Linked DNA regions of Homo sapiens. The protein of the gene in region 2 interacts with the protein of the main gene of each other region in a biochemical or structural test. Each region holds a gene or a part of one and is shown on either strand. Other genes may lie near its edges.

Evidence for each region.
Region 1: the proteins of POLI (region 2) and ALAD form a complex in vitro, tested with the Homo sapiens proteins (one large-scale study listed by BioGRID).
Region 3: the proteins of POLI (region 2) and DAPP1 form a complex in vitro, tested with the Homo sapiens proteins (one large-scale study listed by BioGRID).
Region 4: the proteins of POLI (region 2) and CCR6 form a complex in vitro, tested with the Homo sapiens proteins (one large-scale study listed by BioGRID).
Region 5: the proteins of POLI (region 2) and GNG7 form a complex in vitro, tested with the Homo sapiens proteins (one large-scale study listed by BioGRID).
Region 6: the proteins of POLI (region 2) and KMT5B form a complex in vitro, tested with the Homo sapiens proteins (one large-scale study listed by BioGRID).
Region 7: the proteins of POLI (region 2) and PSG6 form a complex in vitro, tested with the Homo sapiens proteins (one large-scale study listed by BioGRID).

The regions. Positions count from the first base shown.
Region 1 is NC_000009.12:113,388,549-113,391,284, forward strand, and holds part of ALAD (delta-aminolevulinic acid dehydratase), read right to left. Parts: intron 2,386-2,736; coding exon 2,250-2,385; intron 2,129-2,249; coding exon 2,045-2,128; intron 1,946-2,044; coding exon 1,857-1,945; intron 1,281-1,856; coding exon 1,225-1,280; intron 1,139-1,224; coding exon 1,051-1,138; intron 977-1,050; coding exon 890-976; intron 559-889; coding exon 429-558; intron 1-428.
Region 2 is NC_000018.10:54,286,517-54,290,016, reverse strand, and holds part of POLI (DNA polymerase iota isoform a (long)), read right to left. Parts: intron 2,737-3,500; coding exon 2,606-2,736; intron 1-2,605. UniProt on the Homo sapiens protein: Error-prone DNA polymerase specifically involved in DNA repair. Plays an important role in translesion synthesis, where the normal high-fidelity DNA polymerases cannot proceed and DNA synthesis stalls. Favors Hoogsteen base-pairing in the active site.
Region 3 is NC_000004.12:99,815,457-99,819,626, reverse strand, and holds the start of DAPP1 (dual adapter for phosphotyrosine and 3-phosphotyrosine and 3-phosphoinositide), read right to left. Parts: upstream 2,801-4,170; 5' UTR 2,714-2,800; coding exon 2,613-2,713; intron 1-2,612. UniProt on the Homo sapiens protein: May act as a B-cell-associated adapter that regulates B-cell antigen receptor (BCR)-signaling downstream of PI3K.
Region 4 is NC_000006.12:167,121,942-167,125,895, reverse strand, and holds the start of CCR6 (C-C chemokine receptor type 6), read right to left. Parts: upstream 2,801-3,954; 5' UTR 2,673-2,800; intron 1-2,672. UniProt on the Homo sapiens protein: Receptor for the C-C type chemokine CCL20. Binds to CCL20 and subsequently transduces a signal by increasing the intracellular calcium ion levels.
Region 5 is NC_000019.10:2,699,895-2,704,144, forward strand, and holds the start of GNG7 (guanine nucleotide-binding protein G(I)/G(S)/G(O) subunit gamma-7), read right to left. Parts: upstream 2,801-4,250; 5' UTR 2,752-2,800; intron 1-2,751. UniProt on the Homo sapiens protein: Guanine nucleotide-binding proteins (G proteins) are involved as a modulator or transducer in various transmembrane signaling systems.
Region 6 is NC_000011.10:68,203,297-68,206,796, forward strand, and holds part of KMT5B (histone-lysine N-methyltransferase KMT5B), read right to left. Parts: intron 1-3,500. UniProt on the Homo sapiens protein: Histone methyltransferase that specifically methylates monomethylated 'Lys-20' (H4K20me1) and dimethylated 'Lys-20' (H4K20me2) of histone H4 to produce respectively dimethylated 'Lys-20' (H4K20me2) and trimethylated 'Lys-20' (H4K20me3) and thus regulates transcription and maintenance of genome integrity.
Region 7 is NC_000019.10:42,911,395-42,914,894, forward strand, and holds part of PSG6 (pregnancy-specific beta-1-glycoprotein 6 isoform b precursor), read right to left. Parts: intron 1-3,500.

The DNA.
Region 1 (2,736 bases), on a different chromosome or scaffold from region 2:
GGCCTCAGTTTACCAAAGAATAAAATGCACAGTGAAGGAAATAGGTAAGAGGCAAGTTCCTTCCCATGCTGGTGTGCAATTCTAACAAAATGAGTCCCCTTTATGGAGTGATATTACTTCATTTAATCCTCAGGACAACCACGCACCAGGTATCTTATCCCCAGTTATCCAGTTATGGGTGAGGACACTGAGGTTCAGAGAAGTGGCTTGCCCACGTTCTCACAACCAAAAATGAAGGGCTCTGCTTGCTTCACCGGGCCGTGTTCTATGCTGCAGTTCCATATCTCTTCCTCAGTGTGTGTCTGTTTAGATCACTAGTAATTCCCGGAATAAGATCCCAAGCTCTCAGGACGTCGTTCCCCAATCTAGGCAGAGTGCTTATCAGTCCCTGTGGCGCAGGTCAAAACACCCCACCCTTGCCTGCCTACCTGCTCTGCGGAAGGCAGTCATGGCCTCCAGTACGGCAGCCTTGAGATCAAATGCCCCGGCCTGGGCTCCATGCCACAGCATGGCAAACTCTCCAGAGACGTGGTACACGGCGAGAGGGAGGTCAGGGTGCTGCAGGGAAGCAGACAGGGAGACAGGCTGAAATGGAGGGTGGATGTGGCTCTGGAAGCGTCCCTTCCCCCCTGCTCAATCTGTGACCATCTTGAGCCCCGTGTCCTGGGTTACTGCGGCTGGCAGCCTGGCCCACTCTTGAACTGTTAAAGCAGGGCTGTTTGAGGCTCGTGCAAGCCCCGACATAGAAGGCCACGATGGTTCCTGGGCAGGGAAGGGGAGGAGAGGATGCATGCTTAAGGGCAAACTGCTTCCAACTCTGAGATTCCAGAGTCTGTGGAAAACTCTGTCCCAGCCCCCTGAGCCCCCTTTGCCTCGTACCTGTGCTCACCTTGTCCTTTACCTCCCGCACGATGTCCAGGTAGGGCATTCCCGGCTTCACCATGAGCATGTCAGCTCCTTCCCGTACATCCCGGTCCTAAGGGATGAGGGTATAATGTGGGTGGTGCCTAGGAGGGGGCTGAGGGTGGGGCTCAAGTCCTAGTCACTCACCACAGCTCGGAGAGCCAGGCCTCGTGCTCCAGGGGGCAGCTGGTAGCAGCGGCGGTCCCCAAAAGCTGGGCTTGACTTAGCTGCATCCCTGCAAAGCAGAGTCATCAGGGTGGGCTCCAGCTTTGGGCCAAAGGGCCAGGGATTCACAGCAGACCCCTGCCCACCCCTGCTCACCGGAAAGGGCCATAGAAACAGGAAGCAAATTTGGCACTGTAGCTCATCACCGATACCTATGGGGAGACAATGGAGGTCTTGGCTTATTCGGCCCTTGCCAGGTATCCCAGGGTGATGTGGCAGGGAGAGAAAGAACCTAGGCTGGGAAGGAGACTGCCTGTGTTCTGGTCCTGTTGGAGTGCTGGGCTTGATTTCCCTGCAGAGGCCCAGAGGTTTAAATGGTTCCCCAAAGCCTCATCCAGCACTGTCTTCAGTTCTGTGATTCTTTTTTTTTTTGAGATGGAGTCTAGCTCTGTCATCCAGGCTGAAGTGCAGTGGCATGATCTCAGCTCACTGCCTCGTGGGTTCAAGCGATTCTCCTGCCTCAGCCTCCCCAGTAGCTGGGATTACAGGCGCCTGCCACCACGCCCAGCTAATTTTTGTGTTTTTAGTAGAGATGGGGTTTCACCATGTTGGCCAGGCTGGTCTTGAACCCCTGACCTCAAGTGATCTACCTGCCTCAGCCTCCCAAAGTGCTGGGACTACAGGTGTGAGCCAACACGCCCGGCAGTTCTGTGATTCTTAGCAGACACGGGGGCAGGGCTGGTGCAGACTATCTCCTGCCAGCCCTGTGCTGCATTCCCTGCCCTTACCCTGTTGCCAAGTCCATGTGCCATCAGGGCCTCTTTGATGGCTTCCACGCGTCCATCCATCATGTCCGACGGGGCTACCACCTGACATCCTGGGGGGCAGAGGGTGGCCTTCAGAACTCTGGGGCCCTCCTAGCCACTCTGCCACCTCCTGACCCAGAGGTGCCCATCCCTGCTGGTGGTTCACTCACCTGCCTTGGCATACGCCAATGCCACCTCAGCCAGCCGCTGGCGGCTCTCCTCAGCCCGGAATGCTCCGTTTTCACTCAGGAGCCCTTCAGGACAGATGACTGGGTTTTGGGGAGCACCTTGGGCCCTGGCCTGTCCCCACCCTGTTGAGAAGTGGGCAGTAGGAGTGTGGGTGGCAGCAGGGCTGGTGGGAGGGAGGGAACTCACCGCAGTGACCATGGGAGGTGTAGGGACACAGGCAGACATCACAGGCCACCAGGAGGTTGGGGAAGGTCTTCCTCAACAGATGGATTGCCTCAATAGCTGGGGACTCCTCGGAGTCAGCTGCGGAACCCCGCTCGTCCTAGGGGCAGGGGAGGGACAAAGCAGTGTGTCTATTACATGTAGCTTTGGAAGGCAGGATGACAGCCATCACAGAGCATAGCCCTGGCCTTCTCCTTCCTTCATCATCACAGCCCCTGGATAAGGAAGCACAGAGGACTGACCCTACATGGGTGCTGACTTAAGGGCAAAGACCACGTCCATTCACCTGTGGCCCCAGGGCCAGCACAATGTGGGAGTGAGGGTGCAGTCAGTGTGGACCCTCAGTCCACCTTTGCCCAACCTCCCTTCCTTTTTCTGTTTGTATTGGAGACAGGGTCTTGCTCTGTCACCCAGGCTAGAGTGCACTGGCGCGATTTTGGCTCACTGCAGC
Region 2 (3,500 bases):
CTTTTGCTGTGCAGAAGCTCTTTAGTTTAATTAGGTCCCATCTGTCAATTTTGGCTTTTGTTGCCATTGCTTTTGGTGTTTTAGTCATGAGGTCTTTGCCCATGCTTATGTACTAAATGCTATTGCCTAGGTTTTCTTCTAGGGTTTTTATGATTTCAGTTCTAACATTTAAGTCTTTAATCCATCTTGAGTTAACTTTTGTATAAGGTGTAAGGAAGGGATCCAGTTTCAACTTTCTACATATGGCTAGCCAGTTTTCCTAGCACCATTTATTATATAGGGAATCCTTTCCCCATTGCTTGTTTCTGTCAGGTCTGTCAAAGATCAGATGGTTGTAGATGTGTGGTGTTATTTCTGAGGCCTCTGTTCTGTTCCATTGTTCTGTATCTCTGTTTTTCTGCCAGTACCATGCTGTTTTGGTTACTGTAGCCTTGTAGTATAGTTTGAAGTCAGGTAGCATGATGCCTCCAGCTTTGTTCTTTTTATTTAGGATTGTCTTGGCTATAGGGGCTCATTTTTGGTTCCATATGCAATTTAAAGTATTTTTTTCCAATTCTGTGAAGAAAGTTAGTGGTAGCTTGATGGGGATGGCATTGAACCTATAAATTACTTTGGGCAGTATGGGAAAATGGCCTAAATTTTTTAAGCCCTCTCCAACCCATACACTTATCCACTGGCAGAGGTAGACGGCTTCCAGACTCTAGTGTTTGAGCAAAACCTTTGCCAATCACTGGCTAACCATGAAACTATACAGACATGGGCAACTTCCCAGAAGCCAGTATTAAAATAAAAATTTGAATGGAAAAAAAAAAAAAAAACACTTGAGCAGAGAAATCAGTGGCTACACAGCACAGGGGAGGTAAATTCTGCAGATTACGTTCAGACAAGTTACCTAAAAAGAAGTACAGGAAACAAAAAAGAAAAAACCCTACAAGAAAAAATTGTAAATCCAGAGTTGCTACAATACATTATCTATGAGGTTCAGTTTTCAATAAAATAGTTCAAAACATGCAAAGAAACAGGAAAGTGTGATACATATTTGGGAGGAAAAGCAGTTAACATAAATTGACTTTGAGGTGAACTTAGCAAAGACTTCAAATTCATTATTATAGATATGTCCAAAGAATTAAAGACAACCATGTTTAAAGAATTAAAGTAAAATATAATGACTACAAAAAAAGGAGAATCTTGATAAAGAAACAAAACCAAACATATAAACAAAAGACAAACAGAAATTCTAGAGTTAAAAAGTACAGTAACCAAAACCAACAAATCACTACAGGGGCAACAGCGGTTATGAGATGACAGATGAATCAGAGAACTTACAGGCAGCTCAATACAAATTATCCACTTTGTAAGAAAAAACGGAAAAAAAAAAAGACTACAGAAAAATAAACAGAGCAGCAGAGACCACCACAGGGTGGAATCAGTGTTAAGGATAAACATATAGACCAATGAAACAAGAAAGTCAGGAAATAAACTCTTATATTTATGGTCAATTAATTTTTGACAAAGATGTCATGGTAATTCAGTGGGTGGAGAATAGTCTTCAACAAATGATGCAGGAACAACTGGATACCCACATGCAAAGCAAAGAATGAAGACCCTTACCGTATACCACACATAAAAAAATTAACTCAAAATGGACCTAAACATAAAGCTTAAAAACTATAAAACTTCTAACAGAAAACAGAAAAAAATATCTGTGACCTTTGAGTTAGGCAAAGAATTTTTACATATAACACCAAAAACACTATCCATAAAAGAAAAACCACACTACTATATACCGCTAGAACAACTATAATCAAAGAGACTGATAATACAAATATTGGCGAAAATATGAAAAACTGGAACCTTCAAATATTGTTGATGAAAATGTAAATTAATACACAAACTTTGGAAAAAAGTTGGCAGCTTCTTAAACAGTTCATGTTACCATATGATCCAGCAATTCCACTCTTTGAAATCTACCCAAGATAAATGAAAACATATGCATATGCCCATCCAATGACTTGCATTTAAATGTTCTTCAAAATGGAAACAATCTAAATGCCCATAAAGAAGTTATCTCATGCTATACAGTTATCACAGTTTTGTTCTCTTTGAACTTGGAAAACATTCTTAAATGACTCTTTACTTAATTATCTATTTAAAAACAAGGCCAGGTGCAGTAGCTCATGCCCATAATCCCAGCACTTTCGGAGGCTGAGGCAGAAGGATTGCTTGAGCTCAGGAGTTTGAGACCCTGTCTATCCTAAATATCAAAAAAGTTAGCCAGGTCTGGTAGCATGCACCTACTGTCCCAGCTACTCGGGAGGCTGGGGCAGAAGAATTGTTTGAGCCTGGGAGACAAAGGCTGCAGTGAGCTATCACAGCACCACTGCACTTCAGCCTTGGTGCAGAGCAAGACCCTGTCTCAAAAAATAAATAAATAAATAAACAAACAACAAAGTTTTCCAGTGAAAATTCCTGATAGAATAAAAGCATTTAATTGCTTGCTAATTCCCTGTGAAGACCCTCCATTTTTGGAGCATATTTCTCATTCAAAGTTGGCTTATTTAAGAGTTCAACCTGCTAATGAAACTGTTGGAAAACTAGTCCATACCTGTCCCTAATTTCTGAATTACATGTGAAGGAATAGGGCACTGACGACTCTCACGACCATAGTGCTTCTCAGAGGAATACCGACGGATTATTAATCTCACTGTATGAGGCTTCCTTCCATCTTGGCATACTCTAAAAATAAAGAGAAAGTGGAAATAAGGAATTAGAAAAGTATTACCTTTTTAAATTATGTAACATCTCATTTATCTAAAGGTGCCAGATTTTGTTAAATATGACAATTATACATATAGCAGATAACAAAATAGTAAGCAATAAAGGTCCCTGAGTATCCAAATAATCATCACAAAGTCTATGCACTAAAACTCTGAATGTTTAGATGTCAAGCTCTCAGGCCTCACTCAGAATTGAGTGCTGTCAGAAATAGAAGAGATATAAGATACAATCATAACAAACTGTTTTATAATACAGATCCAAAACAAAACTAAAAGCAACCAATTTTTTTTTTTTTGAGATGGAGTCTCACTCTGTTGCCCAGGCTGGAATGTGGTGGCACAATCTCAGCTCACTGCAACCTTCACCTCCCAGGTTCAAGCAATTCTCCTGCCTCAGCCTCCTGAGTAGCTGGGACTACAGGCATGTGTGACCACACCTGGCTAATTTTTGTATTTTTAGTAGAGAGGTGGTTTTGCCATGTTGGCCAGGCTGGTCTCGAACTCCTGACCTCAGGTGATCCCCCCACCTCAGCCTCCCAAAATGCTGGGATTACAGACGTAAGCCAACACACCTAACCAAAAGGCAACAAATTAAAATCAGCAGGAAATTTAAGAAACTGAATCATTCACTGACAAAAGCAAATAAGTGAAAAATAACAAAAGAACTTTTTTCAAACTTTTTTCTTACGAGATTACCAAAAAAAAGATTTTTTTTTACAAAAT
Region 3 (4,170 bases), on a different chromosome or scaffold from region 2:
TGGAAACTAAATTAATCAGAAGGTTTGGTAGAGATTCTATCTCGCCAGTGGTTAAAGGTTCAAAGAAAAAGTCATTATAATGTTCGAGTTATGTTCAGTATTCTGGCAGAGGCAACAAGTCATTGTCAAGAGTTCTCAAATTGTTATCTATAAAAAATGTATCAGTGAGGTGCTGCAGGAGCAAGTACTGGCACAAGTTGATTATTAAATATTCAATTCGATGATGTTAAATTGTTGGCAGCTTGAAATTGTCTATAGTGGGAGTATTTATACCAGGGAATTAGGCAAATTCTTGAAATCAGGGCTTTCTCCACACCCCAACTCTTCCCAGCTGTTTTTCCAGCACACTGTTGAGTATGCTTAAATAAGCCATACATCTGAGGGTTCTTTTTGGGAGAACAGAAATGTCCTAAAACTGATTTATGGTGATGGTTGTATCACTCTGTAAAGTTAGTCAAAAGTATTGAATTGTACACTTGAAACGGGTATATTTTATGATATGTAAAATAACCTCAATAAAGTTGCTAATCGAAATGCCCCTAAACCAACAAACAAAATATCAACATTTATTAGTAATTTTAAGATTCAAGTACACACCCAACAGACTTAAAATGAAAAACAAGACCACATTTACCTAATGCATTTGGTAGATACATATTCTATGCAGTGATCATCAACCTAGGGTCTCACTTTGGAATTACTTGGAGAGTTTGACAAGAAAACACCCATCCCCAGAGATACTGAAATCATTTGTCAAGTCTGTGGTTTGGGTGTCAAGATGTTCCAGAGCACAGCCAAGGTCAAGAACCAGGACTGTAGAGCAGTTTTCCCAGATAACTGCAGGTTGCCCATTGCTATAGAAATCATCCTCATGTTTATTAATTGTTCACGCCTTCTGAAATAGGGAAATCTGGCCATGAATGTACCCTTTTTTTTTTGCAGGGAAGTGGTGTGACTCAGTTTTGTATTCAATGTCTATTCTTTGCACATGGAGGAAAGACACAGTCCTATTCCACCCGTGGGTTTCACCTGTAGTTGCTTCTTGCTGTTGACATCATGGTGGGGCACAGAGACAGCATCTAATTCATCTTTGTCATCTAAGTGTGTTCCCACAGTACTCAACCATAGACTCTGGGTTCTAGGATTGTTTGTTTAACTAAAGGACCAGAATTGAATATATTCCTCTATCTCCTCCTTTGGGGTTTTCTATTACAGTGGGCTGGGAATACAGTTAACAGAACATGTAAAGCATTGTAACTTAATAGTTCAATAAGACACTGAGGGCCACAGTTCAGCTTTAGCTTTTGGACTTGGTGACACCTGTGCTGGATGCTCACAGAAGGGCCTTTTACCTCTTCTGTTTGGGGATTCAATCTAGAGGGATAGAGAGATTCTAGAGCTCTGGCTTCCTAATAAGGGGAGTTTTCTTTAATGAAAATTCCAGGTGTTTTATCTGATTTGCCAAATGAAAGTAGAGTTCAATTCCGAGACCTCAGTTTTATAATCTAAAGACAGGAATTATTAATAAACTTTTACAGTAATACAACATAAAAAGATACAATCTCTGCAGCCTTAACACAGAGAGATTTCAACTCTATTTTGGTTTTTCTTTGGTTTCGGACATAGCCTGTGGTAGGTTGGATGCCCAGCTTTGCTATGTAATTGATGTGTGACTAGCAAGCAAGTTATTCAAACCTGTTTGGTACTTGTTTTCATCCTTTGTAAGATGAAGATGACAACAGCTCCTATGTCATTGGATTGCTATGAAGAGTTAGAGCTATTTGTCCAGGCAGAAGGTAAAGGTTTTGCCTCTCCTCATGCACAGGTGTCAAAGCCACCTTCATTGGGATATTCCCAGTGCATTAGGCAGTTTCTCTGGGAAATCCCCAATTCCTCTCTTGTGTAATACTTGTTTCTTATTAAATACCCGGATGAGTTGTCATCTGGGTCCCTTCTTAAAGACAGAGCTCCAATGACTCCACCTACCTATGCTTACCTGTTTGAAGCAGAAATTTTATCCTCTTCCTGGATTGTTGGTACTGAAAGGCTCAAAGTTGGCTCTCTGGACATACATACGATATCAAATCTCACAAATGCAGTATCAGGAGAAAGAAATATACAAGCGAGACTGTTGCAGGAACTTCCTCATTCTCTGTCTTTTGAAAAAGTCCCTCTCCCTTACAGTAGGGTAAGCTTTCTGTTTATCTTACCAGAAACACAGTCCTTTTACTGTCCCTGGGTCAGTGCTAGAAACTCTTGAACAGCGCATTTATTCATAAACCAGAGCAACATCAAGGAAGCCAGGCAACATCACCTCTATATCCCAATTCTGTCCCTCTTCTCAAAGAATGTCCAACATTTGATTTTTTTCCCTATTTTCTCAACCAACTTGTTTTCACATCTAGAAAAATAATGCCTGCTTTTCCAATGGAATTAGCCCCAGACAAGAAGATACTTAACAGATACAAATGAATAAAGTGGAAAAAAATAAATGGTTGAGGTGGCAGAGGGCAACAAGGCACTGAAGATAGTCATTAATCAAAGCATGCAGGTGGGAGTGCGGAGTCAATGTCCACCCACTAGGTACTTTGAAAGGAGATCTGCTGCCTTACCCCAAGTCCTGGAGCAGCTCAGCCTCTCCATCGGATCTGCTCCACAGATCTGAGGGATCCTGGGTGCTCATCTTCCCTTCTAGAAGTTCTGCTCTGCCCATTCGCGCCCTTCACAGAGGTAGAGAGAGAGACACAACTGGGCTGCTCCTGACACCTTCTCGCTCTGTGAGACAGCAGCCTGCTATGGCTCTGAGTCTCCAAGGCAAGGAAGTGAAACTTGGTTACTTACTCCTCCCACCAACACCACCACCCTGGCCTGGAGGCACTGGCAGGAGTGTTCTGTCAGTCAGGAAGTATGCAAACTTAGGTAGCTACCTCTGAGGACACCCACACTACATCACGCAACAGGCGGTTGCTATCAAAGGAAATGAAGAGGCAACCACCCCACCTGGGATTGGACAACAGTGCAAACTGCTTGTGTGAGGCCAAACCCTAGCTTCTCCCTAATGCTATCAGCCTCTGGTTTGTAGTGGAGGATGCGTGCACTCTTTTACCCCATCTTCTTTCTGTCTTACACACCAACACAGGGAACACTGAGGAAGCTTCTCTATCAGGAACACCTTTAGAGTGGATAGAAAAAGCAGAAGCAAACCACAAATTCGACCCTGAAGTTTGATGTTTTAGCACTTTTGCAATATTTCTGCTTGTTTACCCAGACCTTCTAATATATCCTCAATGCTCCGAATAGGGATGATTCAGAGACAATTATTGTTTCCTCCACAGAAAAAGAATTAGGAGAGGAGAAGGTAGGAAAAAGTTACAAGGGGCCATTCTGGTGCCCACCTAATGGGGCATATTAGAACTCCTGGAGTCTTTTTTTTTTTTTTTTTTTGAGACAGTCTCGCTCTGTCACTCAGTCTGGAGTGTAATGGCATGACCTGAGATCACTGCAACCTCCACCTCCCAGGGTTCAAGTGATTCTTCTGCCTCAGCCTCCCAAGTAGCTGGTATTACAGGCACCCGTCATCATGCTCTGCTAATTTTTGTGTTTTTATAGAGACAGGGTTTCACCCTCAGGTGATACACTCACCTCGGCCTCCCAAAGTGCTGGGCTTATAGGCATGAGCCACTGCACCTGGCCTGAACTCCTAGAGTCTTTGAGTGCCACTTCCTTCATGGGCTTACTCACACCTGCATGGCTTTGTGCCCAGATTCATATGTAGAGCAGGATTCTATCTGCCTGGAATGCTAAAGGTAAATTGCAGTGACTGAATCCTTGGGAAGTGGAACAAAGTGCAGTATCAAATGAGTCAAGGACATATGTTGCTTCCTGCCTTTTCTATGTACCTACAGGTCTCTCTCTCCCTCTCCCTTTCTCTCTCTCTCTTCCTATCTCTACTCCCTGACTCATTCAGCACTCACCACAGTGCTCTGTAACTTGTTCTCACAGTGTGGCCTGAGGACTAAACAGCACAGCAGAACTGTTCCTAAAGGACTAGATGATTGCAAAAGGCTGCTGTGCAATGGTTCTATCCTTCATCTTCCTCCCTATTACCACTGTTCACCCGGGATCGGTGAGACCCGGGTAACACTGGTTGCCAGTGGGAAGTTCCTGAGT
Region 4 (3,954 bases), on a different chromosome or scaffold from region 2:
AGAATAATATTTCTTACATAGCATTTAAAATGTTCAATTTTTTTTGCAATTTTTATTGCAATAAAGTAATGTGGCTTCCTAGTACAACTTTTATTAGGTACAATATGCAATAGAGTATCTCAGAAAGTAATAATTAATTGGCTAATTCATTTAGAAATGAAAAGAACACCTAATTATACATTCTGCTAAAAAGCAGAACCAGAAGAAAGAGGGAGGGGCTGCCCTCACTATAGGATTTAAGGCCGTGTTCAGTTCTCCAAACACAGCCACACTCATCTCCCCCCGGCCTTCAACGGTGCCTCTACCTTAGAGAAAACCATGTTTTTGGACTTGAGGGCATTGGGAGTCCTCTAATCACAGGCAAATGGCCCCAGAAGAGGTGGGTAGCCACAGCACACACTCTCAGGGAGACCAATACTGGCTGGCTCTGTGGTGGTAGCAAAGAGGGAAGGCCGGTGAGAGCTGTGGGTGGGGGGCTCCCCAAGAAGAGCAGGGGTTGGGGGGACCAAGCAACAGACCGACTGCCATTGATCATCCCTTTGGCCAAGGACAGACTCTGTCCAAGAAAATTCAATATGGGGAAAACATTAGTAATAGTTATGAAAATATTACTGGTAATAAAAACTGTGTGGACTTGTAATTTAAAAACATTTAATAACTAGCTTAACAATGTGTTACAATTGTCAGACAGTTTTAAATTTGTGCTTACTTTCATAAATAGTAGTGGCCCTGCAAAACAAGGAGCAAGAACTAAATAAGAGTATGTGTGTGTGTGTGCATATGTCGGTGTGTGTGTATGTATGTGTCTAGGCATGTGTGCATGTGTGCAGTGTGCATATGCCTGCATATATACACCTGTTTATATCATGTATGTGTATATGCATGTGTATGCATGTGTGTATATAGGTGTGCACATGTGTGTATACATGTGTATGTGTGTATTTGCATGTGTGTGCATGGGTGTATATTGGTGCCTGCATGTATACATACATGTGTGTATGCATGCATGTGTGTGCAGTATGTGTATAACTGTGTGTGTGTACATATGGACGTGTGTGTATGTATATATGCACGCATATGTGTGTGTGTGTGTGTGCGCGCATATGCTGTAAATTAAGTTCTAGTTACCTGCTAGGCATTAGAATCACTGGTTTACAGCTGTTTATCTCTTTTAACCTCACAAAACCCTTTAAGGTAGACATCATACCCATTTTACAGATAGCGAGTGTAGCTCATCTAGGACTGTGAGTACTGGTGAGACTCCCATTACTGTCTCTTACTCGCCGTTCTAATTCACCTTGCCACCAGCAGGTCTTAGTGAAATGCCATAGAATTCCCACAAGATCTTAAATAATATATTTATTTTAAAACATCTTATTGATATCAGAGTTTTGCATACTGTAATGGTAGGTGTTCAATACATTTATGTTCTCTAAGTTTATTTGAATCATGGGCCCACCATATTTTATACCTTTTTAGATAAGCATCAGTGGAGCTGAAACTCTAGGCTGGCTTCCTTCTGCTTTTGAATGAGAGTGGCTAAGGAGGAGACCAGGAGGTTTGATTTTTTTTTTGTTTTCCCCCGGTGATTTGTTTATTAAGCTTCTGTGGGTTGGTTTTTTTTTTTTTTCAGTTCCTTTAATTTCTTTGGAAGTTTGCTTTTATGTTTTCTGTTTTATTTGCAGAAATTACATCTTTAACCATTTAAAGAATAGCTTTAGTTATGGCCTTGCATTTTTGTTTTTCTTTATAAAGCTGATCTCTACAATATCTATGTCCTGCTGCTAAGTGGACTTTGGAGCTGATCTCCGGCTGGAGTGCAGTAGCGTGATCTCGGCTCACTGCAACCTCCGCCTCCCAAGTTCCAGTGATTCTCCTGCCTCAGCCTCCCAAGTAGCTGGGATTACAGGCACATGCCACAATGCCTGGCTAATTTTTGTATTTTTAGTAGAGACGGGATTTTACCATGTTGGCCAGGCTGGTCTCGAACTCCTGACCTCAGCTGATACACCCAGCTTGGTCTCCCAAAGTGCTGAGATTACAGGTATGAGCCACTGCACCTAGCCTGGCTCCCTTTAATATCATTGTGTATTATTTTCTGGTCATAAGATACTGCCTTCATAATCACAGTGGCATTGGCAGCCCTCATGAGAGCTTTGCAACTGAGACTTGTTGAAATTTCCACCTTGTCAATTTCTCTTAACTCCCCCTCACAAGCTCCTTCCTGCTCAATCTTAGGCTGTCCGGGATGCCCACTCATCAGCCTTCATTGCATAAATGACTTACTGCCTCCAAAATATTTCTTAGCTTAATTTTTTTGTTTTCCAAAATCTTTCAGTGTATTTGATCAAATAAAGAATCACATTCCTCTCCAGACTGATGCCCTGAGGATATCTCCTGTATGAGGAGCAAGTACCCAGACCATCACCGAAGCTCCAGTGCAGGGAGCGAGTATGAAATCCCTTACTATACACTTAGAGGAAAAGTGGGCTTCCTAAAACCATAAAGTCAATGCTTTCAGGAAAGGAAGTCTGTGTCGTTAAGCATAAACATGGTCAATATGCCAGCATTCTGGAAGATTAATGAGTAAAACAGTCCCATTCCTGTCAGACTAGGGGATCAAAGAAGTTACATTTTTGAAAGAAAAGTCTCAGGGGCCTTGGCATGCTCACCTCAGGCAGTGCTCTGATCCACTCCCTTCAGCCTCACTCCGGGCCCCACAATCTGATGACTCCAGCTCACCAATGTGATGACCATCTGTCAATAAGATGCAGCTTCTAGCAGTCATTAAGAAAAAAGCGGTGAGCTACTAGAATTGCCCAAAAGCAAGTTCTGGATTGCCACTTCCTATTGAAAAGTAACGCCTATTTGCCCAAATGCAAATGGTTAACCATGTATATCCTGTAGGGTATTGAGTAATCGTAGGATCCCTGGAATCAAAGTCCAACCAATGGTAAAGTGATAAGAAAAAGAGAGGCATTGAACTCCCCAGAGGAAGACAGCCTTTGCATGGTTTTCAATTTGCAGCAATGAGTTTGTACCCAAACTTTCATACTCCTTTACCTGGTTATCTCCTGGGAGCAAGGAGTCTCTGCAAGCCGACTGGGAAGATTTGGGAACGTTTGCAAGAGGCCGTGTGAGTTAAAGACATGGGCCGGGAGCACTTTTGTGTGGAGTCAGTCAGTCCTGGCCCCACCCCGAAAGCTGTGCAGCCACAGAAGGGCCACTGAGCCCCAGCAAGCCTCGGTTTCCTCTTTCAGAAGAAAGACCATGACAGCTCTAACCTCAGAGGGTTCCGAGAAATAGCCATGCCCGTCCACGGAAGCCGAGGAGCAGCGCCTGAAGGAGAGGTGGTTCTCCATGCATCTCAGCTATTATTACAAGATACTTTGAGAGCAACAGAGGAGCTCCTCAATCAAAAGCGGGCACCTAATCTTCATGTGGCACAGAGACAGAATCTCTGGGTGACGATGCGGGTCACTGCCCTGTCTTTAGACATATCAAGGAAAGCAGCTGACGACAAGTCACTCAGAAATTTATTTGTAGATGCAAGTGCTTAAAAAATAGAAAAGAACCCTAGAATCACAAGGCTGTTCGCACCTGGGTTGCTGTGAACCACGTCTCAGGAAATAACAAAAGTTTTACAGACAATAGGTTCGTGATCAATTCTCAGCCAGCCTGATGGACTCACACTTTCTCCACTTCCCAGTGCACTGTGCCTCCCCACCCCCAGGCTGCCCACGAGGCTCCACTGCCCGCTGCCCAGCTCTGCTCTATCTTGACCACACCTCACCTGGGTCGCTCCTTCCTGCAGAGCCCTGAGCTCCACGTCCTCACGCCTGAGTGAGCCTGAGAAGCTGGAGCGCACCCCTTATCATCTCTCTGGGGAACCAGCTAGACACAGCAGGACCTGTGTCCTGCTCAACCCCACTGGCCATTTTCCCGGGTTTGTCC
Region 5 (4,250 bases), on a different chromosome or scaffold from region 2:
TCCTTACGGGGTGCCCCTAATCAGAATGACCCAGGCAGCCTTCTCTTGAACAGGTGCATCTGTTACTTAACGAGCTTTGAGACTCTCCTGCCACCAGGTGTGGGCAAAGTCTTCTTTCTTTTCAGTTTTTTACTCACTTTTAATAATATGGAAACAGGCTCCATATTTGAGACTCTGTCTCAACATAATAATAATAATAACAATAATAATAAGACATATTTTTGTTGTTGTTGCAGTCCTTTTTTTTTTTTTCCTTTATTTTTTTGAGGCAGAGTCTCTCTCTGTTGCCCAGGCTGGAGTGCAATGGCGTGATCTTGGCTCACTGCAACCTCCACCTCCTGGGTTCAAGCGATTCTCCTGCTTCAGCCTCCCAAGTAGCTGGGATTACAGGCAAACGCCACTATGCCCAGCTAATTTTTGATATTTTTAGTAGAGACAGGTTTTCGCTATATTGGCCAGGCTGGTCTCAAACTCCTGACCTCAGGTGATCCACCCGCCTCGGCCTCCCAAAGCGCGGGGATTACAGGCATGAGCCACCACAACCAGCCATGCAGGTTATTTTTTAAAGCTTCTGGGGGTGACCCTGATGTGTGCTCCTAAGGTTGCAGGACTAGAGTCAAGTTCCAGTCACTTCCTTTCCTCTCCTCTGTGACAACCCAGTCATCCCACTCCTCCATCTCCAAACCCACCAAAGAAAAAAACTGGATTGAGTCCATTATTCTCCATGCTTCAGGTACCCTCACTATATGCTAGGAAATAGTCCATGCATACATCCCGTAATTCGACCCTGAGAGGCACATGCTACTGTTTTTATTATTCCCGCTTTGCAGGGGAGTAAACAACACCTCCAAAAGATGATACAGCCAAATCCGCAGCGAGAGGCTGGGTCGGAACACACACAGGCGCACCTCCCAGAGGCCCCCGACACTCCATCAAGGCAAGATCGCAGCATCCCACGACGGGAACAAGTTTGTGAACTTGGCATTTGCCTCGCTGACACCTAGCAACCGTGTGAAGACGCTTAGCTGGGGATCCGCTGCCTCTGTTCATCAAGCCTGTCTTCCACCGCCCACCTCCCAACCCCTAGCAACCCCCGCTCCCCAGGAAAAATAAAGTGCCACCCACGTCGCTCAATAGCACCGTCCCAAAAACTCCCACTTTAGTTCCTGAAAAATTCAGTCACCGACAGGAGCCTTTCTCCTTCCTGAAGCGTTCTCCTTGGCACCCTATATCCTAGAAATAAACCTCAAAAAGTATTCCGAACTCCCGTCTCCTTCAACTCACTGTTCCCCAGGGGGTTCTGCCCCGTGCCCAGTTCTAGAGCAAACAATTAACATCTCCCCCAAAAGTAGAGGGGTGAGTCCTCTCCAAATTCCTTTTAACTGGATCCTACCTGAGACACCTCCCCACACCCCGTTTTCCTCCTGATTAGTCAATGTCTAGCAAAACACCTGCCCCCAGGTGTCTCCAGCCTGGGACCTTACCCCCACCTCCCTTCTCACTAACTCACCCCAACTTCCTTCTCCCTGAACCCCCTTCCACCCCACACACTCACAAGCTCCCCATTTCCCCTGATAGCCCCCAGACCCTTTCTGGAACAAGCCTGACCCCCACCTGTATGCTCCAGCCACTCCCTGGCTCACCCCAGCTTTGTCCTTCTGCCCCTTTTCAGCTAACCCTAACCCCTGGGCCGTCAATCACACCCCCCCATCTTCACCAACCCCATTCCTCAGTCCTCTCCCCAGACAACCTCAACATCTAATTCCCTCTGCAGCCCCCTCTCCAATGAACCCCACTTCAAACTCCATCCCCAGCCCCCTCTCCAGCTCCCTGCAAACCTCAACCCCACTCCCAGCTCCCTCTTCAAAGAAGCTGCACCCTTGACTCAACCCCTGTTCCCCGCTCCAATTAACCTCAACCCCCAACACCATCCCCAGCGTCCTCCCCAGCTAACTCAGATTTCCAATTCCACTTCCAGCCCCCTCCCCAGCTAACCTCGACCTACAATTCCAGCCCCCTCCCCAGCTAGCTTGGACCTCCAATCCCACTCCAAGCCCCCTCGGCAGCTAACCTCGACCTGCGACTCTAGCCCCCTCCCCAGCAAACTCAAGACCTCCAATTCCACCACCAGCCCCTTCCTAGCTAACCTGGACCTGCAATTCCAGACCCCTCCCCAGCCAACTCAGACCTCCAATCCCGCTCCAAGCTCCCTCCCCAGCTAACCTCGACCTGCAACTCCAGTCCCCTCCCCAGATAACTCAGACCTCCAGTCTCACCCCCAGCCCCCTCCTCAGCTAACTCAGACCTCCAATCCCACCTCCAGCCCCCTCCCCAGCTAACCTGGACCTGCAACTCCAGCCTCCTCCCCAGCTGGCCCTGATTTCTAAGTGGAGTCCCAATGCCCAGACCCAATCCTTCCCCAGCTAACCTCGATCTGCACCCCCTGCCCCGTCCCCAGCTAACCTCGACCTGCAACTCCCGCCCCCTCCCCAGCTAGCCCTGAGCCCCAAGTGCAGTCCCAATCCCCAACCCCAGCCCCTCCCCAGCTAACTTCGACCCCCTAAGCGCAGCCCCGTCCCCAATTCCAACCCCAGCCTCCAGTTGCAGCCCGGGTCCCCAGACCCAGCCCCCCTCCTCAGCCGACTCCGACCCCCAACTCGGTCCGCAGCCGAATCCGAGCTGTCCCAGTCCCCTCTCCGGGACGCCGGCCGCGCCCTCACTTCCCCTGGCCCGGTTCGCGGGCGCCCTTACCTGCGCTCGGGCCCCGCGGCCGCCTCAGCCCCGCCGCGCAGCCGAACCCTCCGCCCCGGCCCGCGAGCGCTCGCTCCCCTCTGCGGGGGCGGGGCCGACACTCGGGGGGCGGGCCCTGGCGTCCCGGCAAGGCCAATCGCGAGCCCCGGCTGCGGGAGGCCGGAGCGGGGGCGGGGCGCGGGGCAGGCAGCGGGGTAGGCTGCGCCCAGGAGAGTGGGGCGGGGCTCCGGGCGCGGGCGGGGCCGGGGGCGGGGCGAAGAGCGGCTTTCCAGGGTGACTTCGTGACGTCAGGAAGGCGCGAGTAGTTTCGCGAGTTCGAATCCCGCGCTAGGTGAGCTGGTTCGAATCCTGCATGCCAGCTCCGGGGGCTCATTTGCTGGGGAAGAATGTCAGTGATCATAACTGCTGCACCGCTTTCTTGAAGACTTTATAGGCTCCCTCTCGTGGGACCCTCCGCATAAGGCCAGAAGGCGAGATTACTATCCACATTTTACAGAGGTGGAAACTGGGTCTCAGAAAGGTGAAACCTAAGGTCATTTGCCCAAGCCTGTCTCATCATTTCCAAGATTTCTCAGTTTCCTAACTCATGGCCCTGGATCCACAAATTCCTGAGCCCCAACACAGATGGAATGAACCAGAATCCTATAGGGAACTGGACCCTGAAATCTGTGTTTTGTTTAGTTTTCGTTTTGTTTTTGAGACAGGGTATCACTCAATTGCCGTGGCTGGACTGCAGTGGTGCAGTCATAGCTCACTGCAGCTTTGAAGTCCCAGGCTCAAGCAGTCCTTCCACCTCAGCCTTCCGGGTAGCTGGGGCCACAGGCACGCACCACCACATCCAGCTAATTTTTGTATTATTAGTAGAGACAGGGTTTCACCGTTTTGGCCAGGCTGGTCTCCAACTCCTGACCTCAGGTGATCCACCTTTCTTGGCCTCCCATAGTGCTGGGATTACAGGCGTGAGCCACCGTGCCTGGCCCTGGCTAATTTTTTTTTGTTAGAGATGGGGTCTTGCTATGTTGCCCAAACTGGTCTTGAACTCCTGGGCTCAAGTGATTCTCCTGCCTCTGCCTCCCAAAATGCTTGGATTACAGGCCTGGAATCTTCATTTTCCACAAGCTCCCTTGGGAATATTGGAAAACACTTTGTATGTCTCCAAAAGCAGTACACAGCCCTGGAAGGAAGATGGAGCCACCATATTCTGTGACCTCAGGGATTTCATCAGGCGCTGACACTGTGTGTCCTTGCCGCCCCACCTGAGCCCTGGGATTGGAGCTGCTGGCCAAAATCCAAGATAAACTTCCCCAGGGTTCCTGTCATCCCTGCAAGAACCTCCCTGCTCATCCTCTGGACTCCAGTGGCCTGCCCTGCAGGGCACAGAGAAACCTCCATCTCCCTGCTTGCCCTCCTCCAGGCTCTCCCCAGCTGGCATCCCCCAAGAGGAATGACTGTCTAGATAGAGCTTGGGAAGGGCACGGTGGCTCACGACTGTATTCCCA
Region 6 (3,500 bases), on a different chromosome or scaffold from region 2:
ATCCAGCACAAGACCAGACATAGGTCCATTCATATCACCTTCCCTTTCTATTCTCAAACCAACTGCTACACATAAGCAGAATCGGTTTTTAGTTTTCTCCTAAATGTGAAATCACAAAAGGACTTGACATCAAAGAATTCCAAATCGGTCTTTATCAATGGCTATTCCAAAGCCGTCTGCAATCAATATTGCAATAACTAAGGCTCCACGGAATCCTATGGTATCAATCCCAGCGATGAGGCCAATAAAAGAAGCCCTGCAAAGCTATCAGAAGCATTTGTGACCAATATTCCATCATAACACCATTAACACTGCTTGACAGGGCAATTTCTCAGTTGCTAATTTGTTAGAAAACTACCACGAATTCACGTTCATACCTGTAACCTTAAAACTTGCTCCTATAAACATTGTTGTCTCACCTGAGAAGCTAGGTGACTTGTCAGAGTAGTTCAACGGGGTGTTAGTATTATGAAAAGAGAAAGGCCTCAGGGTTTTCATTTCCCTGAATTCACAATTATGCTTCTACCTAAGGCAGAGCCTTTACTTTAAAATTAGAGCTGTCACGCTAATTCAAATGGTAATCAGGTATCTAGAACCATCAACTCCATAGCAAAGAATACGTCTCTATACTCCTAAAATAATTACAAATGTCCATGATATTATCATTCCTACTTTCCTTCTCTAGCTTTCATAGGGTCAAGCTTGGATGCATTTTGCTTCACCCAATTCAACAGCTTTCCCAAGTACCCTCAGGTGGTAATGCCCTCACTCAGGCCACCAAGAGAATAGCGTCTGAAGCTGAGCAGTTTACCTACCACCAAGGTAGAATGCTTCACCCACTGCCCTTTCAGAATAAAACGATGGCCACAGACACCATCACTAAGTTTTGAAAAAGACTAAACTTGTTGAGCTAACAGCTCTAAAGCAGACTGTAGTATGGTGGAAAACGGCCCCCAAAGACATCGGCTCCTAATCTCTGGAGCCTGTGAATGCTACCTTATAAGGAAAATGGTCTTTGAAGATGTTATAAAAAATTTTGAGATAAAAGAGATTATCCTAGATTATCTGGGTAAGCCTTAAATGCCACTCAAATGACTTTATAAGAGGCAGAGGGAGATTTGACACCTCACAAAGTACAGAAGGTGAAGCAGACTGGAGTGATGTGGCCACAGGTGAGGGAATGCTGCAGCCCACCAGAGGCTGGAAGAAGCAAAGAGCAGCTTCCCTCCACAGCCCTGCCAACGCCTTGACTTTGGCCCAGTGAAACTGATGTTGAACTTCTGGCCTCGAAAACCGTGAGAGAATAAATTTCCGGTTTTTTTTTTTTTTTTTTTTTTTTGACACAGAGTCTCACATGTTGCCTAGGCTGGAGGCAGTGGTGCGATCTCAGCTCACTGTAACCTCCACCTCCCAGATTCCAGCAATTTCTCCTGCCTCAGCCTCCTGAGTAGCTGGGATTATAGGCACCTGCTGCCACGCCAGGCTAATTTTTGTATTTTTAGTAGAGATGGGGTTTCGCCATGTTGGCCAGGATGGTCTCGAACTCTTGACCTCAAGTGATCCGCCCACCTTGGCCTCCCAAAGTGCTGGGATTACAGGTGTGAGCCACCGTGCCCAGCCCATTTCTGTTGTTTTAAGCCGCTAAGTTTATGGAATTTGTTACAGTGACCACATAACAGAGATTATGAAAAACTAAACCAAAGTAGAAACGCTTTACAGTTACCACACTCCAAAAATACATAAAATTCCAACATGTCACAGGAAAAAAGATTTTAAACAACTTTTAAAACAGTGTATTTAAAACAAGTTTTAAAAGACTGGGCAACAAAGTGAGACCCTCATCTCTACCAAAAAAAAAAACAAAAAAAACAAGTAGCCAGTTGTGCTGCTGCGCAACTTCAGTCCCTGCTACTCAGGAGGCTGAGGCTGAAGGATCATGGGAGTCCAGGAGGTAGAGGCTGCAGTGAGCTATGATCATGCCACTGCACTCCAGCCTGGGTGACAGAGTGAGACCTCACCTTTAAAAACATAAATAAATAAAAAGTTTAAATCATACACTATCCTTCAACTGAAGGTATAAAATGCAGCTACTGAGTTATATAGATTTTGAAAATAGAGCCAGCCTCTTAATTACACCTCTGATTACTCACACACTTGCTAGGCCAGATAACCATGATCTTCCTGAATAGCATTGTAATTGAACATTTTTCTATTTATATTAAAACTTACAATAAAAACTGAAACTATTAGAATTTCTCATTGAGCAAAACATTTTAAGGAGCAAACTATCCACTACTGGTAAGTTTATGATCAGACATTCGCAATTCTTTTTTTTTTTTTTTCAGACGGAGTCTCACTCTGTCCACCAGGCTGGAGTGCAGTGGCATGATCTCAGCTCACTGCAAGCTCCACCTCCCGGGTTCAAGCCATTCTCCTGCCTCAGCCTCCTGAGTACCTGGGACTACAGACACCCGCCACCACAATTAGCTAACTTTTTGTATTTTTAGTACAGACAGGGTTTCACCGTGTTAGGCAGGATGGTCTCAATCTCCTGACCTCGAGATCCACCCACCTCGGCCTCCCAAAGTGCTGGGATTACAGGCGTGAGCCACCGCGCCCGGCCAGACGTTCGCAATTCTTAGACTTACTTATTTGGCTACTGATCTACAGCCAGACATGTAAGAAACTCCTAATTGCCTTATCACAGAAAATACTGCTTCATTCTTAAATATCACATTCAATACGTATTTACGACGAGGGATGTCATGTAAGAAAGACTTCATGTCTTCATCTCAGTAGTTATTTTAAAACAAAGGTTTTCACTGATGGGGTTGTTGAGGGAAAGTCCTCAAAAAAACTTCCAGAAGAAAACAAAAAATGCCTGCTTCCCCCATCTCTCCACATTTGATCCATCTGCTTACCTAGCAGTGCCTAGAAATAAAATCAAGGATGCTTTCTTTGTTACTGTTTTCTCTAGGACTCAAACAGCCATTCACGGTTCTAGAAACAGATGCCACCTAGTGTCAAATGACTGTAAGTACAGCCTTTACAGCCCACAGTTTCTGTCAGAAGTTACAAGAAGTACATCAAAGATTTTTACTGGGCAAGGACAAGTGTGAGGAAAAGCTTCCAAAAGGTGGTTCTTGGGCTGGACGTTAGAGGCCACTTTGAGTTTGCCAGCTGGTGGGCTTTGCAGAGGCAGCCCGCACAGGGATTAAGGATGTGGCTCTGCAGTCAAAGCACCTGTCCCACCCTAGCTTCATCCTTACCCCAGCAGTGTGAGCAGACGAGTTATTTAACTTCACCGATGCCCCACCAGTACAATGAAAAGAAGGCCTCCCTAGGTTTGGCACAAGATATTTTAAATGAGCACAAACTGCTAACAAATTAAGGTCTCCCCTTCCAAGTAACTAAGGCAAAAGTAAAGCAGGCCAGAAACATTCTTCACAAAACTTTAATCAAGTAGAAATTTCCCTTCTATTCCCCACCATAACTCACAC
Region 7 (3,500 bases), on a different chromosome or scaffold from region 2:
GTCAGGCCTGGAGGTCAGTTCAGTCATCAGGCAGTGGAGCCACAAGGTGGGGCAGTTTTCCAGGTGTCTCATAGTGACTGAGTTGAGCCAATGACTCTAAAGATAGAGCAGAGTCCAAGGAATGACCTACAAAGAGTGAAAGGGACAGGCAAGAGCTGATAGGTTTGGCCCAAGACCATGATCCCTGTTCTGGGTCCATGATGCTCCCTTCCCCCTGTAGAGGGCAGTTGAGGACCATATGGATCTTTCTAGAAATACATGTTGATGTTTGCAAATGCAGAACTGACTGGTGGAAAGGGCAAACATGAACAGATGACAGAAGTCTGGCCCTCAGGGACCTTATGTGTTTGGTGGATATTAGACCAATATTTGGGAAGAAGTCTTGCAGATACTTTCTCTTATTAGACATTCTACTCTCTGATTCTGAGTTTGACTACTCTATGTACCTCATATCAGTGGATTCCAGAGGGAATCAGAGATTAGAATAGTAGTTTGCAGCAACTGAAATCACGGGTATAGGGCGTTGTTCCGTGGGTGTGCGGTTTCTGTTATGCAGGATGAGGAGGTTCTAGAGATCTCCTGTGCAGCCTCGTGCCTATACTTCATGCAGATACAGTGCTCCTTATGCAGAAAGCTTAAAACAAAGTGTTTTGGATTTCTAATTTTTTTTATTTTGGAATATTTGCAGTATATGTACTGGTTTAGCATCCCAAATCTGAAAAATTTAAAATCCACAATGCGCGAGTGAGCACTTCTTTTTAGCATCACATCAGTGGTCAGAAGTGTTGAGTTTTGAGCATTTCAGATTGTGGATTTCTGGATTTCCGATGCTCAATTTGTAATACTGTAATTTTCCCATAAAAAGTTGTCAGGAGTTTAGACCTCATGTTATATTCTGACTCTAGTAACAAAAAAAATTTGGAGGAAACCTTAAAATGTTTTCATAAGTGGAAATTTTTACTGATGGTCCAAACATCTAAGATCAATTGCTGGTAGTCATATTTCTCTTGAGACCAAAATAAGGTTTAGGTGTGCCATGAATTCCAGCAGGATCACATTATGCTCAAAGAAAGATGCCAAAGGTGATTTGAAATTAGCAACTCCTTAAGTAGAGAGAGTCCTGTTAAAAGGACCGAACTGGTTAGTGTGTCAATTACATAAAAGGAGGAAGGATGCCAAATTAAAAGAAGTGATGTGTGTTATGTTAGTAAATATAGAAAGAACCTGCTTCTAATTTCTGTGCAGAGTTACAAAACATGGGGAGGACCCCAAAACAGGTATGTGAAATGTCTTCTTCATTTTCTCTTAAGGTCAGGAAACACCACTAAAATTTAAGTTTGTGTGAATTAGGAAGAGTCTAAGTGAGATGCCAATGGCTCTTGTGTCTCCCCACACGAAGAACTCCAACTTATGAAAACGGCATCATCATGAGGAAATAGTTGTATGTGGCACAGGCAGTAAAACCATGAGATAGGACCTACCTGGCCACCTCCATCTGGTCCCCAAACCACAAGTATTCCCGTTAAGTGTATGTGACAGCCTTTGTAGTTGTCCCACAACTACAAAATTTAAAAATTGCTATTGTCAAAACAAAATATTAAATATGAAGTTGAATATGTTGTTCCGCTTTTTTTCCCCACTCTTTTTGAGCTTTCCTGTTTCAGTTTTGGAAGTTTCTATTGACACATTCTCAAGCTAGGGATTCTTTCCTCAGCTCTGTGCGGTCTATCAGTAAGCATCAAAAGCATTCTTCATTTCTCTAACAGCATTTTTTTTTCTGAGACAGAGTCTCGCTCTGTCACCCCAGCTGCAGTGGCATGATCTCAGCTCACTGCAAGCTCCACCTCCTGGGTTCATGCCATTCTCCTGCCTCGGCCTCCCAAGTAGCTGGGACTACAGGTGACCACCACCATGCCCAGCTAATTTTTTGTATTTTTAGTAGAGACGGGGTTTCACCATGTTAGCCAGGATGGTCTCTATCTCCTGACCTTGTGCCCGCCTCAGCCTCCCAAAGTGCTGGGATTATAGGCGTGAGCCACTGTGCCCAGCCATCTCTGAAGGATTTTAATGAGTTGTTGACTTTTGAGTTTGTTCAGCTTTTTACTTAGTGTTAGAACCGAGTGACAAATTTCAAGCTTGTTTTATGCCTGACAGGAAGCCAGAAGTCTCTAGAAAGTGACCGGAGAATGTGAGCTCCATAGCAGGTTGAGGATGGAGTCACTAGTGAAATGGGTGAAATGAGCCTATGGGCTTAATTGCTCCTATAATTGCTCCTATAGATAACATCACTATTGTAGAACGTGAGATTGGTCTTTTGAAATGTTTCTCATTCTTTTGCCTTCTGACAACCGGCTGACCTCATCCATACCTATGCCTAATGGCTCAGCCAGTCATGTGGCCCCTACCTAGAGGCAGATTCAAGCACTAACAGATCATTTCCCTCCGCCCGCATGATTCCATCACCAATCAGCAGTACTCATTTTTTAGTCCTGTGCCCCTGAAACTATCCTTGAAAATCTCTAACACCTGATCCACTGGGGAGGCTGATTTGAGTAATAATAAACCTCCACCCTCCTGTTTGGCAGACTTGGAGTTCTTAAAATCTTTCTTTACTGCAAACCACCATTTCAATAAATTTTATTTTATTTTATATTTTTTTGTGTGCAGGAGGCCAGAGGAACTTGTCTGGCAATTACAAGGGTGGATGGGGGAACTGCCTATCCCTGTCCCATGGTCTTGTCCACAGGTCAGCCTCACAAAGGGAAAGAGCCCTGGATGGGAATACAGTGGAAGGTTTCTCTTAGTGACCTGGGGACATTGGCTCGAGAGGAAGCCTGGCAGGAGTGGCAACTCCAGGTGATTTCTGCACCTTTCCTATTTCCTGGGAGGTGGGCCAGGCCACAGTGTTAGCGGGAAGGGAACAGAACAGCCAGCCTAGTTAGAGGGAGTGTCTGGGGAAGGCCTAGGGTTGGAGGAAGAAGCTGTGCAGGACAGGGCTTGCCAGTCAGAATGAAGTGGGAGGAAGATGAGGGACACAGAGAAGCAGAGAGAGGCAGAGACACCATGGCAGTGAGCAGTGAGGGAGACACTGACTTCAAAAACCCCAGGGACCAGGTGCCCCCAGCTCCACAGTCCAGGACCAAAGAGCCCTGAGAACCCTCCGGTGGCCAAAGAACTTCAGAGTTGCATGAGGTGGGGTGGCTTTAGGGTCAAGAGGTAGTGGGGGGATGAAACATGGGTGTCAGCCTCTGAAGGACAAGGGACAGGTGTGGCTAGAACCTCCTAGGATTCTGATTCCAAGATCCAGTCTCTAAAGAGGTTTTGGATCATCCATTTCTTCATTCCATTCCTTCATTTGTTATGTGAGAGCTCCTGAGTGTGTCTCTCTCACTGGGCCTGTGCTGAGGCAGGGTGTGAGTGGGGAAAGAAAACAAGGTCCTCTCCTTGATCCTCTCATGACGGTGACATGGACACTTGGGAAACACAGGATTTCACATTCA